2 separate regions of the Homo sapiens genome follow, and region 2 is linked to region 1. A link means that fine-mapping ties the variant in region 1 to the expression of a gene that starts in the linked region. Tissue or cell type: aorta. Region 1 holds a variant in brackets; the other region holds the start of a gene. All regions are shown on one strand. Distances are from middle to middle.

What was found.
Region 2: SLF2 starts here. The variant in region 1 is fine-mapped to the expression of SLF2 in aorta (GTEx, PIP above 0.99).

The regions. Positions count from the first base shown.
Region 1 is chr10:100,886,938-100,892,318 of GRCh38, forward strand. No RefSeq gene overlaps it. Among named protein-coding and RNA genes, the nearest start is that of SLF2, 23 kb to the right of the region's middle. RefSeq lists enhancers at 3,051-4,250, 3,775-4,069. The variant A/G (reference allele first, on the strand shown) is at 2,071.
Region 2 is chr10:100,910,393-100,915,773 of GRCh38, forward strand. It overlaps SLF2 (SMC5/6 complex localization factor 2), which reads left to right and starts at 2,571. Exons shown (of 20, transcript NM_018121.4): 1 at 2,571-2,858. The coding sequence starts at 2,719. RefSeq lists a silencer at 2,091-2,360 and enhancers at 2,581-2,650, 2,671-2,720.

The DNA of each region.
Region 1 (5,381 bases):
GATTCCCCATCAGATACTCTCCATGCTCACTGTTTATAGTCCCTGGGGCATCACTACTTTAACTTGTTTATGTCTTTTTGAGTAAAGTCAGTGTGGGGAGAGCTGGAGACGGTGGCAGGCCTCTGTAATGGAAGAACCCAGGCTGGAAGAGCTTAGCAACTGCAGCTGCTCCCATCTCTCTCTGTTTCTCAATCTCTTCCTCTCTCGAGATTTCACCTCTCTCTGCCCTGGCTCCACCAGCTGTTTCCTGCAAATCCAGCTGAGACAGCTGCTGGCCCCACCATGCTAAATTTCCAGGGGCCCTGGAACCCCTTGGCTGTCTCGGCCCAAATGTGGGCAAATCTCAGGCGTCCAGACAAGGCTGAGATTGTTCAAAAAGCACTTCGCTAGGAAACTGGGGGGAACGCCAAAAAAGTAAATTACAAAGGCAGAGAAACAGACAACTTACGGAACACAGATTCCTTCCCCAGCATAATTCAAGTCTAGACCCAGAATAGTTTGTTGCAAGAACAAGAGGCTAAGAAGGGTAGGAAGAAAAGGTACAGGTTTTTGACCCCTTGCTCCTCATTCTTCCTCAATTCATTAGGGCTTGGAGTTTAGCCTGAGATAGAGGTTGTTCTGGGAAAGGGCCATATGTGCAAAGTGGCCCCCAAATGCTGAAGGAGCTGAGAAACAAAGAACGAGGCAAACAAATCCAATTTGTCAGTAAAGGGTGTTTTATTGGGGGGAACTTACAGAGAGAAGCATGGTCTTGCATGGATGCAAGATAGGTAGATTTCTGCACTGTTACTCCCCAGACCCATGGCTTATATACCATAGAGAAAGGGTGCACACACTCCAGCAGGACAATGCAAGGCAACCCTCCGGAAGAGGCAAGAATGCTACATGCGTCATAGCCTATAATTTGTGCGATAACATCAGGGTTGCTTTGTTCTTACACTAGAGACAAACAAGGTAGGAATCAGGAGGCACTCAGGACTGGGGCTACTCATAAGTTAACATGGCGGGTTAGCATCCGCGATGGAGTCGCTCTTGTCTCCACAGCGGTTAACACCATTGCCATGTCTCATTGAGTTCTCGGCTTTCAGAACAATGCCACCCAGGCTCCTGTCTGAATCTGGCTCCCAAATCTAGGCTGTGCTATGTCTGCTCTGCCCCCTAGTTGGGGCTCCTGACCTGGCCCCTGAACGAGGAATGCACTCCTCTGCCGACCTTCTTATGCCGGTTCCGGGGTGCCCCTTCCAGAGAGCTCAGTGACTCTGCTCCACCCACAAACATGCGACCTTCTCCCCAAGGCTGCTTCTACCTTTCCTTAAAGCTAAAATTGGCCAGGCATGGTGATTCACACTTGTAATCCCAGCACTTTGGAAGGCTAAGGTGGGAGAATTGTTTGAGGCCAGGGGTTCAAGACCAACCTGGACAACATAGTGAGAGCCTATGTCTACAAAGAAAATTTTTTAGAAAGCTAGCTGGGCGTGGTGGTACCCACCTACAGTCCTAGTTACTTGGGAGGCTGAGGCAGGAGGATAGCTTGAGCCCAGAAGTTTGAAGTCATAGTGAACACCACTGTACTCTAGCCTGGGTGACAGAGTGAGACCTTGTCTCTTTAAAAAACAACAACAAAAAAAGCTAAGATCTTGGTCTCTTGGTAGCTTTAGGTGCTGGGACTCTTGGGTTGATGTCTGTCTGGCAGGATGGTGGTGAAGCTATTACTCCAGAAGCCTTTCCTTCTGAGCTCCCAGCCCTAGCAATCCCTCTTAGGTCCCCTGTTCCCCACCATTTAGATGCCAGCCCACATGACCTTCCTATATTCCACTGCTACACTGGAGCTAACAAGCACAAATACGTATCAACTATCACCAAGAATTGAGAAACTGTTCTCTCAGAGCACCTCCAGAAGAAGTGAGCTAAATGCTAGATGATGCCTCCAATTCCCATCTCTAGATGTAGGTTCAACAGAGTTCCACTTCCACATGTTCCATCATTTATTGGAAATTTCCATCAGGCTCATTCATCAGCGCCTTAGCATCCATTACCCAACTTGCCCCCAAGCTAACGTGTCAGCCTACT[A/G]TTGCCAGGTAGCTGGAATCCATTGGTCCAACCATGGGCTTTGGGGTTCAAATTCTGGTCCTGTCATCTATTAGCTGGAAGACCTGAGTTAAGTCGTTTAACTGGAACTGCTTTTTCTGTGACATTGGAAGGAGTGTTTTGTAGCTCCCTCTCATGGTTGATAGGAGGAACTAATAAAATTGCATCTGTAAACCATCTAGCATTTTGCCTGACATATAGTAAGAATGTTAAAATTAATATAGATATACAGATATACTCCCTTTCCTATGCAAACTGGTGCTCTATACCAGCTCTCCAATATCCTTCGGTGACACCATCATTTCTAGAAAAGTAGATTATCTTGGATCCATGTGACAGACTTCATTCACATCATAAATTAATAAATTCACTTTCTGGTTTTAGGCATTAGTCTCTCAAGCCTGATCAATATGCTTTTGCCACTAGGACAAGGATCTGTTTCTGGTTGGGCAGAAAATGAGTTTTCTGCACCCAAAAGGCTGAGGGTCAGAGAAAATTATCCCAGTCTATGGCTGTTCCCGGAGAAAACTCCCAGGAGACAGCATGCTCATCACCCCCACAACTGGTCACCTCTATATCAGATACCCCTGGATTTGCCATCTCTCTTTCCATTTGGAACTGTTCTACGCTGGGCTCAGAGTTTCACATCTAGTAGGTGTTTAGGACCTATTTGTTTTGTCAGTGTGTGAGTGGGTGGGTGGATGGTTGAGTGGGTCACCGGAAATTCGTACCTCTTTTTGAGGCAGGGAAGGAGCAGTGGTGGCCTAGCAACCAGGGAATCTGCCTAGCAACGAGGGTGGGAGGCAGAGGCTGCTGGAATAGTTTAGAATGGCTAACAAATAGGCAGATGTAAAAGAGACCTTTCTGGATCTTGTCAAGTTGGGGTCTCAGGCCAAAAGGAGAAAGGAGACCCACAGGGATCAGGAAAGAAGTGTGGGAGGAAGGGCTGTATTTGAAAATGTTACAAACTCAAACTGGAAAAAGCCTCACGCCTTTTCTACATGTGCTCAAGCAGAAGGCACCCCTCCCCATTCTCACCCCGAGGAAGGTGATACCTCAGAGTAGACACATTTGAAGAGCATACCACCTTTTCTGCACTCCAATTTGCAAGGGTACAACATTTTAACATGTTCTATCAAGTCTGGAATTTTTATCAACTCAGAAAGCTACAACCCCCTGGAAAGGATGAAGACCTATATTCGCTTAAAATGAACCCAGAGGCAGATTAAGCGACTTTCCAATACGGTCTGTCTAGGGCAAAGGAACCATTAGGAACTCGGGACTGGTCTGACTTGAATTGTTTCCCTCTCTCCTTCCTTTCCACCCCGTCACAGGACAGGGCTTGGACATCCCCTCCTGTGAACTCTCAAGACCCTCCCCTGAAGAGAGGAAAAATTGTCATCAGCCTTTGACCTGATTAATAATTAAAACTGCTGAGTTTGAACTGCCCCTAACAGTGAGGTGCTCCAAAACCCCAGCAAACTTTAACAAATAACCAGCTTGCTCAGGGGAGAGAGGAAGCTTTATTCACTAGACAAACTGACAATTAGCTGCTATTCAAATCCCCCTCTAGTCCTAGCATATTGGTTCTCCTTTGAAAGTGGCTCGGCATGGGGTAGAATTTTTGGCCTTGAGTTTAGAACTACTGTGCATAAAATCAAAGCAAGGAAGCCAGCAGTTGAGAGAATAGAGGCTATTTGGGGATTAGTGATTTCGGAGTTAGATTTCTAATAACTTGGTGAGTGGTGGGTTAGGAATGTCCTCCAGGAGCATCAGGCAGTCAACACTGTGGGACATGTCCTCACATTGAACTGGAAAGCAGTGAGTCACTACCCTAGAGAGCGGAAATACAAAATGGCATGAAATAACTGCAACCGCAGCACCACATGGTAATCTGCCTTTTGTAACCTCTGCAGGCTACATCGCATGCTTACAACTTGGGGTTATGTGTGAAGCCCCAAGTTTGGCTCAAAGTTTTCTCCCCAAATAGCCACAAATATGGGCACCCCCACATTAGAGAACACATTAATGGAGAACAAAGGGAGGAGAGTGGATAAGATGGGAGAGGAGAGAAGGAGGGGGCAGGCATTCAAACTGCTCATTTTCCCCTAGGAAGCATAAGGCCCAGCCACTACGGTGGATGAGCAAAGCAAATTGGTAATGGGTGATCCAGATTGCATCGCAGAGTCTTGCCTGCTTTCCAGGCACTTACTAAACTTTATAACTCTTTTGGGGGTAAGGCACATAAACCCAGGGTTTCTCATTGACCAGTCGGGGAGAGGGAGTCTGAGCTCGCTGGTCCAGGTCTGTTGCTTTTCCACAATACTGTAGTCCATCAAGATTTTTTTTAATGCGTTTTTTAAAGGAGGGCTGGAAAATGATGATATGAGCAGCAGCTGCTGTAGATTCCAGATTGCAATAGCCCAGCCTAGAAAGCACTAGAAAACTCAGTGTTTCAGAGATGGAGAAGGCATAAGACAGAGGTCCACAGATGGATGGCTGCTTATCCTAGGCACCCTGATGTGGAGGGGGGAATTCTGTGTGGAAAAGTTTACCTTTATCCTTTTTGGTTTTAATTGAAGTACAACTTGCAGACAGTAAAATGGATGGTTCACAGTGTCTGGCTTGATGAAGGTATACTGTATGTGTATTCATGTAACCACCAGCCAGATCGAATGTGAAGCATGACCCCCATTCCAGAAGATTCCCTCGTGTCTCCTCACAGTCAATATGCATCCACCTCCCAAAAGTAGCCACATTCTACCCTCTCTCTAAATAAGTTTTGCCTGTTTTTTAAGTTTCATAGAAATGGAATCACTTGGCTGGGTGCAGTGGCTCACGCCTGTAATCCCAGCACTTTGGGAGGCCGAGGTGGGCGGATCACGAGGTCAGGAGATCGAGACCATCCTGACTAACACGGTGAAACCCCATCTCTACTAAAAATACAAAAAAAAAAAAAATTAGCCGGGCATGGTGACAGGCACCTGTAGTCCCAGCTACTCAAGAGACTGAGGCAGGAGAATGGTGTGAATCCGGGAGGCAGAGCTTGCAGTGAGCCCAGATCGTACCACTGTACTCCAGCCTGGGCAGCAAAGTGAGACTCCATCTCAAAAAAAAAAAAAAAAAAAAGAAATGGAATCACTTAGTATATACTCTTTTGTGTTTACCTTCTCATGCTCAATATATCTGTGAGATTCATCTATGGTGTTGTGGGAATCAATAGTTCATTCTTTTTCACTCTTGTGTGGTAATCCGTTGTAGAAATATACCACAATTTATGCATTCTACTGTTG
Region 2 (5,381 bases), 23 kb after region 1:
TTCTTCCAAATCCCAGCTAAGTTTTGTCTTAAGTCTCTAACTGGGTTTGGTTACATTGTTCAATGTCCTTTCCCCCCAGTAACCCCCCTGCCATCCTAGTTTTCTCTCCCCTATTAGCTCCTCCTAAGCACGCATCTGAACTCCTTAAATCTTTTACCTAGTGTAGTTTCCTGGTCATCTCCTTTTAGCCCACTACAAATTGAAGTGTAAAAAACCCTTACAATAAACATGTGTGCGTGCACACGCATGCATGGTATATACGTACACATTTAAACTAGGAGAAAGGATATAAACACAAAATAGACTGTCCAGTACTATTTGGGGGTGGGAGGTGGAGAAGAGCCCTAGGCCCTAGAAGTTCCCCTGGGGTTCTTATTAATATGTTGAACATATTTCACCCTGCAACCCAAATCTGTACCACTTTCGTACACAGCTTAAACAAAGAAGAGTCTTGATGCTTATTGAGGATTTAGATAACTACTTCCCGTTAAGAAGATATTTTTAAAATTGTGTTTTCATTATGACTCCATCTCCATTTATTGATCGAGGGATTTCTTGCCTCACTTAACTCCATAATCTGTTACTCAGATTAAGAAAATGAGAAAACTATTGTTTGGTAGTTTGAGTACAGGCTTTAAAGTGATACTTTGGAGGCTGGATGATTCAAGTACTATAATCCAAGAAAAGCAACTAAATGATCATGCAGAACGTGTTTTTATGCATTACTCTTTATCGATTAGGCATGCAAGGAAATGAATCGGATTAAATGTTTCGTAGATGTGCTCTGTTATAGTACAGAAACTTCCTAGTGTAAAAACATCCAACAGAAAGCACTAAGAGATAGGAAATAATACATGTAAAATGCAAATGTGTAAGTCATTCAACACATTTTGAGTATCATGTTTTTTTATGTAAAAAACAATGTTACGTATAGTAAATTCTCCGCTATTAGGAGCAGAAAAGTACCCTCTATTTTGGCACTTCCCTTCTTCCGCCACCATTAGCTAGTATACAGCTGTACATATGTGCTTTTGGGGTGAATGTGAAACCTGTATATTCACTGTTTACCTTCGACCCTCTACTTTGCCAGCTTTTTGTCCACTTTATTCCTTATTAATTCTTCCTCCCGGGGACTAAAGGGGAAGGGAAAAGGAGGTGAACTTGGAGTCAGTCAGGCATGCTTAGTGACCAGAACAGTTCAATTTCGTTTTTTCTAAATTTTAATTAATTAATTTATTTTTGAGACAGGGTCTTGCTATGTTGCCCAGGCTAGTCTCCAACTCCCGGGCTCAAGCTATCCACCTGCCTTGGCCTCCCAAACTGCTGGGATTATAGATGTGAGCAACTGTATCAGGCCAATAGTTCAATTTCTATACAATAAACTTGAAAGACCCGTCCAAATTATTTTATATCATTTAAGATTTTTTTCCATCCAACTGATTAAATAACTCTGTCAATTAAAGCTTGGACATCTTGAAATTGATATTTTGGTTGTTAACAGTTATTGCAACAGTATTTGACCTGTCTCTGGAAGATTTTGTAAAGAAGTAAAATTCGCTGTAGGAATCTATCTGGGGAAGAAAGGGAACTATAATTTGCTCTGTACCTGTTACATGAGAGAATCTGAACTGTGCAGTGTACACTGTTTTATCCTTTTATGGTTTACAATTACCCAGAAAAGTGAGTAAAATGCCCGTTTTACAGATGTGGAGGCTGAGGTTCAGAGATACTGACCAGTCTCTCGGTTTATAAGGAAAACCATGGCTAACAGCCTCCAGAGCACAAGCCCTTTACAAAGGAGGGTTGGAGATTGCAGGCAGCTTTTACTTATCTATGCTGCCCACGCTTAACATGGAAAACTGAAAGCTGACCTTGTGTTCCTTTAAAAAATCTCCAAGGAAGTCGGCTGCAGAGACTTCATGGTAACTCATGAGAAACAAAATGCTTTTGTGGATTAACAACTGTCTTTATTCCAATGGAGTTTTTTGGGGGTTTTTTCTTCTTCTTAAAGACAAAAAAATAATCTACCGCTGACACTCAACAAGAACCGTCGTAGAATGGACAAGTCTTCGGATCGCGCTGTGCAGATCCCTCAGCAAATTGTGACAGTATTATGGCACTTTGGCCTAAGCTGTTAAAGAGACGATGTAATGAACAGCTGCGGATTTCTGAGGCACAATTGTGTGACACAGGAAGCCCAAGTGTTGGCCATCCTCAACGAAGGCAGCTGCCGGGCTCCGGTTTGCTTCAGCAAACCCTCACCCCTCGCCTTCAACCAGGCGGGTGTCGTCAGCTGTCCGCCAGCTGCTGCCCGCGCCTTTCCGCCCCCGCGCGCCGGCCAAGGCCGAGGCGGCCGGGACCAGAGGCGCGCGCCCTCAGTGCATGTGACGGGGTGGGAGGGGGAGGTTTCTTCCTCCCCCGTCCCCAAGCCCCGCCTTCTCCAGAGAGGCTGCGGCTTCCTATTGCGCCACCACCGAAATGACCACCGTGCCAGCCAATCAAGACGTGATTCATGAAGTAAGACCCGCCCCTTACTGGTCCCCAGGTTCCTTCCCGCTCACGCCGGAGTCACTTCCGAAGAGAGAACCGCCATGAAGAGAGAAGGGGGTGCCGCCCACCTCTGCTCCGACAGCCTCCCGGAGTCCCAGCAGCAAGACGGCAACCACGCACCCAACTTCTCCAGCCACGGCTCATGCCGCCGTCGCCAGCGGCGCCGACATGACAAGGCGCTGCATGCCCGCTAGGCCAGGTTTCCCCTCATCCCCAGCCCCGGGGTCGTCGCCCCCGCGCTGCCATCTGAGACCCGGTAGTACCGCCCATGCTGCAGCGGGAAAGAGAACAGAGAGTCCTGGGGACAGGTACCGTGCAGAGGGCTTGAGAAGGGGCCGGGTCGCGGGGGCAAGGGTATGAGGGGAGGGCTGCAGACCGCCGCTCTTCCAGTTCCCGCCATCCTCCGCGAGCTCAGGCGTTGGCATTTCGGGGCCTGGCAAATCCCCGCCCCGCCTCCGCGCAGGGGCTACTGGGAGTTGGAGTTTGCTTCTCTGTAGTTGGGCAGCTGCTCTTGGTCTAGTGACCACCAGCCTGGACAGCTACGGAGAACCCGCCTTAGGTAGAAAGAAAGTGATTTTTTTCCTTTGCAAGAGTTTGACCCGGGACCCTAACTGCTTAATGCATATTTAGATCGTTTTCTGTACGTTGTCAGTTCTACTGATCCTAGTGGTTTAGTAATATAAACCTTTTCTATGTTGTGGGTGAAATTATGTAACCTGTGATGAGGGAATCCCTTCCACGAATTACTTTGTAGTCCAGCGTGCACGCTAGTTCATACTTAAAAGAACTTGCAGATTTGGAATGTGACGTGTTTTCTCTTTCAGTAACTTCACGCCTCTCCAAGAGGCTAATTTTTTTGTAAAGATTTTGTGGGAGCTATGTAATGAGATGGGGAGTTTCATCTAATGACATCCTCTGACAATAAAACATGTTTAAATTCCCTACGAACTTGGTACTGTCTTTTATTTTAAGTTAAATTGTATTAAGTTTTAACAATATTCATGTTACTAATACTGTGGTACAGGCCCACAATCCCTTATCTTAACTCTGAAAGCCAGAAAGCTATGAAAACCAAAACGTTTTCAGTAAGTTTGGCACCACATCTTACTGGGCAGCCAGATCTGACTAAAACTAATGTAAGGCTGTTTGTGGTCTTTATCCCATTAAGTGTGAATATTCATGTTTTGCTGGAGAAATGTCAGTGGATTTGATTACAGGTTGCAGCACCAGACCCCACTGGGGACTTTCCATAATACATCCAAGTTATCCCCTTCCTAAAATCTGATAAATTCAGAATTCTAAAACACATTTGGCCCCAGAAGGTTCAGATAAGGGTTTGTGAAACTGTTATAATTGTGTGTGTGTGTGTGTTTTTTTTTAAGCCAGTTGTTAAATAAGCAGTGGACATTTTGTGTGCATATGAACTTAGAGAACCTACCTCTTGAAAGTTACATTCATGGTTATTTTACAGGTTTCTTGTATGTTTTACCCAAAATCATTTTTTCTCTTTCTGGTGTATTAATCAAAAAGGAGTCTGAGGTCCAATATTTTAGGGAAGAGATACAGTGTTACATTTAGTAAAATGCATTTAGAATTATCTTGTGTGCAACAAATGAGCTGCTTCTGGGTCCCTTCCCATCTCTCCTCAATCAATAACAAGATCAATAACAAGGTATCATCCTTCTTCCCTTTGCAGAACCTCCAACATTTACTCTGGTGGAGTTAATTTGCCTAGTATAATTTATGTAAACAAATGCATATATTCTTCCATAGCCCGTCACTCATATTCATCTCATAAGCACTTAGCTTTTATACCAGCATCTCAAACAAGCGTGATGGACTTGGTAAACCAGTAAAGATGTGCATTGCTCTTCTAATGTGACCAGTAAAGTGTACAAGAAGCTTAACCTTCAAGAAACTTGGATTGTTGGAATTTTCACTGAGCATTCCAACCTCATAGTGGATGAATGTTTAGGGAAATCAATAGTCTATAGCTTATTCTCTTTCAGTAAAATGATACATTTTAGCAAAATTTACCAGAAAGTTAATTTTTTGTTCAGCATATCATAACATCCCCTTTTTTGCAGCTGACAACTCTACAGTGAACAAATCAGAATACGAATTCTGGTAATGGATTCCTATTTCACTTTAGCATTATTGCCAATGTCAGAACTTGATTAGTTAAGCCAGATAATGAAATCCAGTCTTTACGGTACAGAAATTCTTAAAAATTAATTTGGTTTTTGTTATTCTTGTTAACTTTCTTCCTTTTCTCCTTGTGTTTTTCCCAAGCAATGTGTTATTTTTGTAACTATCTTAAGGATTCTTTGATAAAAAATTAAGAATTTGAAACTAGTTGTGACAACTCATTCTAATTTCTGCTGTTACTTAGATTAACATCTTAATGTATAAAGAGGGTAGCATAAGTTTGGTATTTTTCTTTTCTGCCCTTGTCCAGCAAACTCCTCTTCAACTGATTCCCTAGATCAGCCAAATCACCTGTATTGCCATTCTACCATCTACTGTTCTACTCTTGTTATGAGAGTCTGTTCAAGTTTTACTCCATTTTTATAATCCCCATTATTCATTTGGCATACATCTATTGAGTTTTTTTTTAGCTTGTTATTCTAAATTTTAAAACGCAGCTGTGCTTAGATACCAAGTAATTATTTTGTATCAATGTCTGCAGAGAACAAGTAGGTTCATATGCTGATACCCAAGATGTTGCATTCTACCATGTAGCCGTGAACATTTCAGTCTTAAGAAGCACTCTGTACTAATTCCTTGGGTCTACACACCAGTCTGACCTATTTAAGTACTATAAATAATAT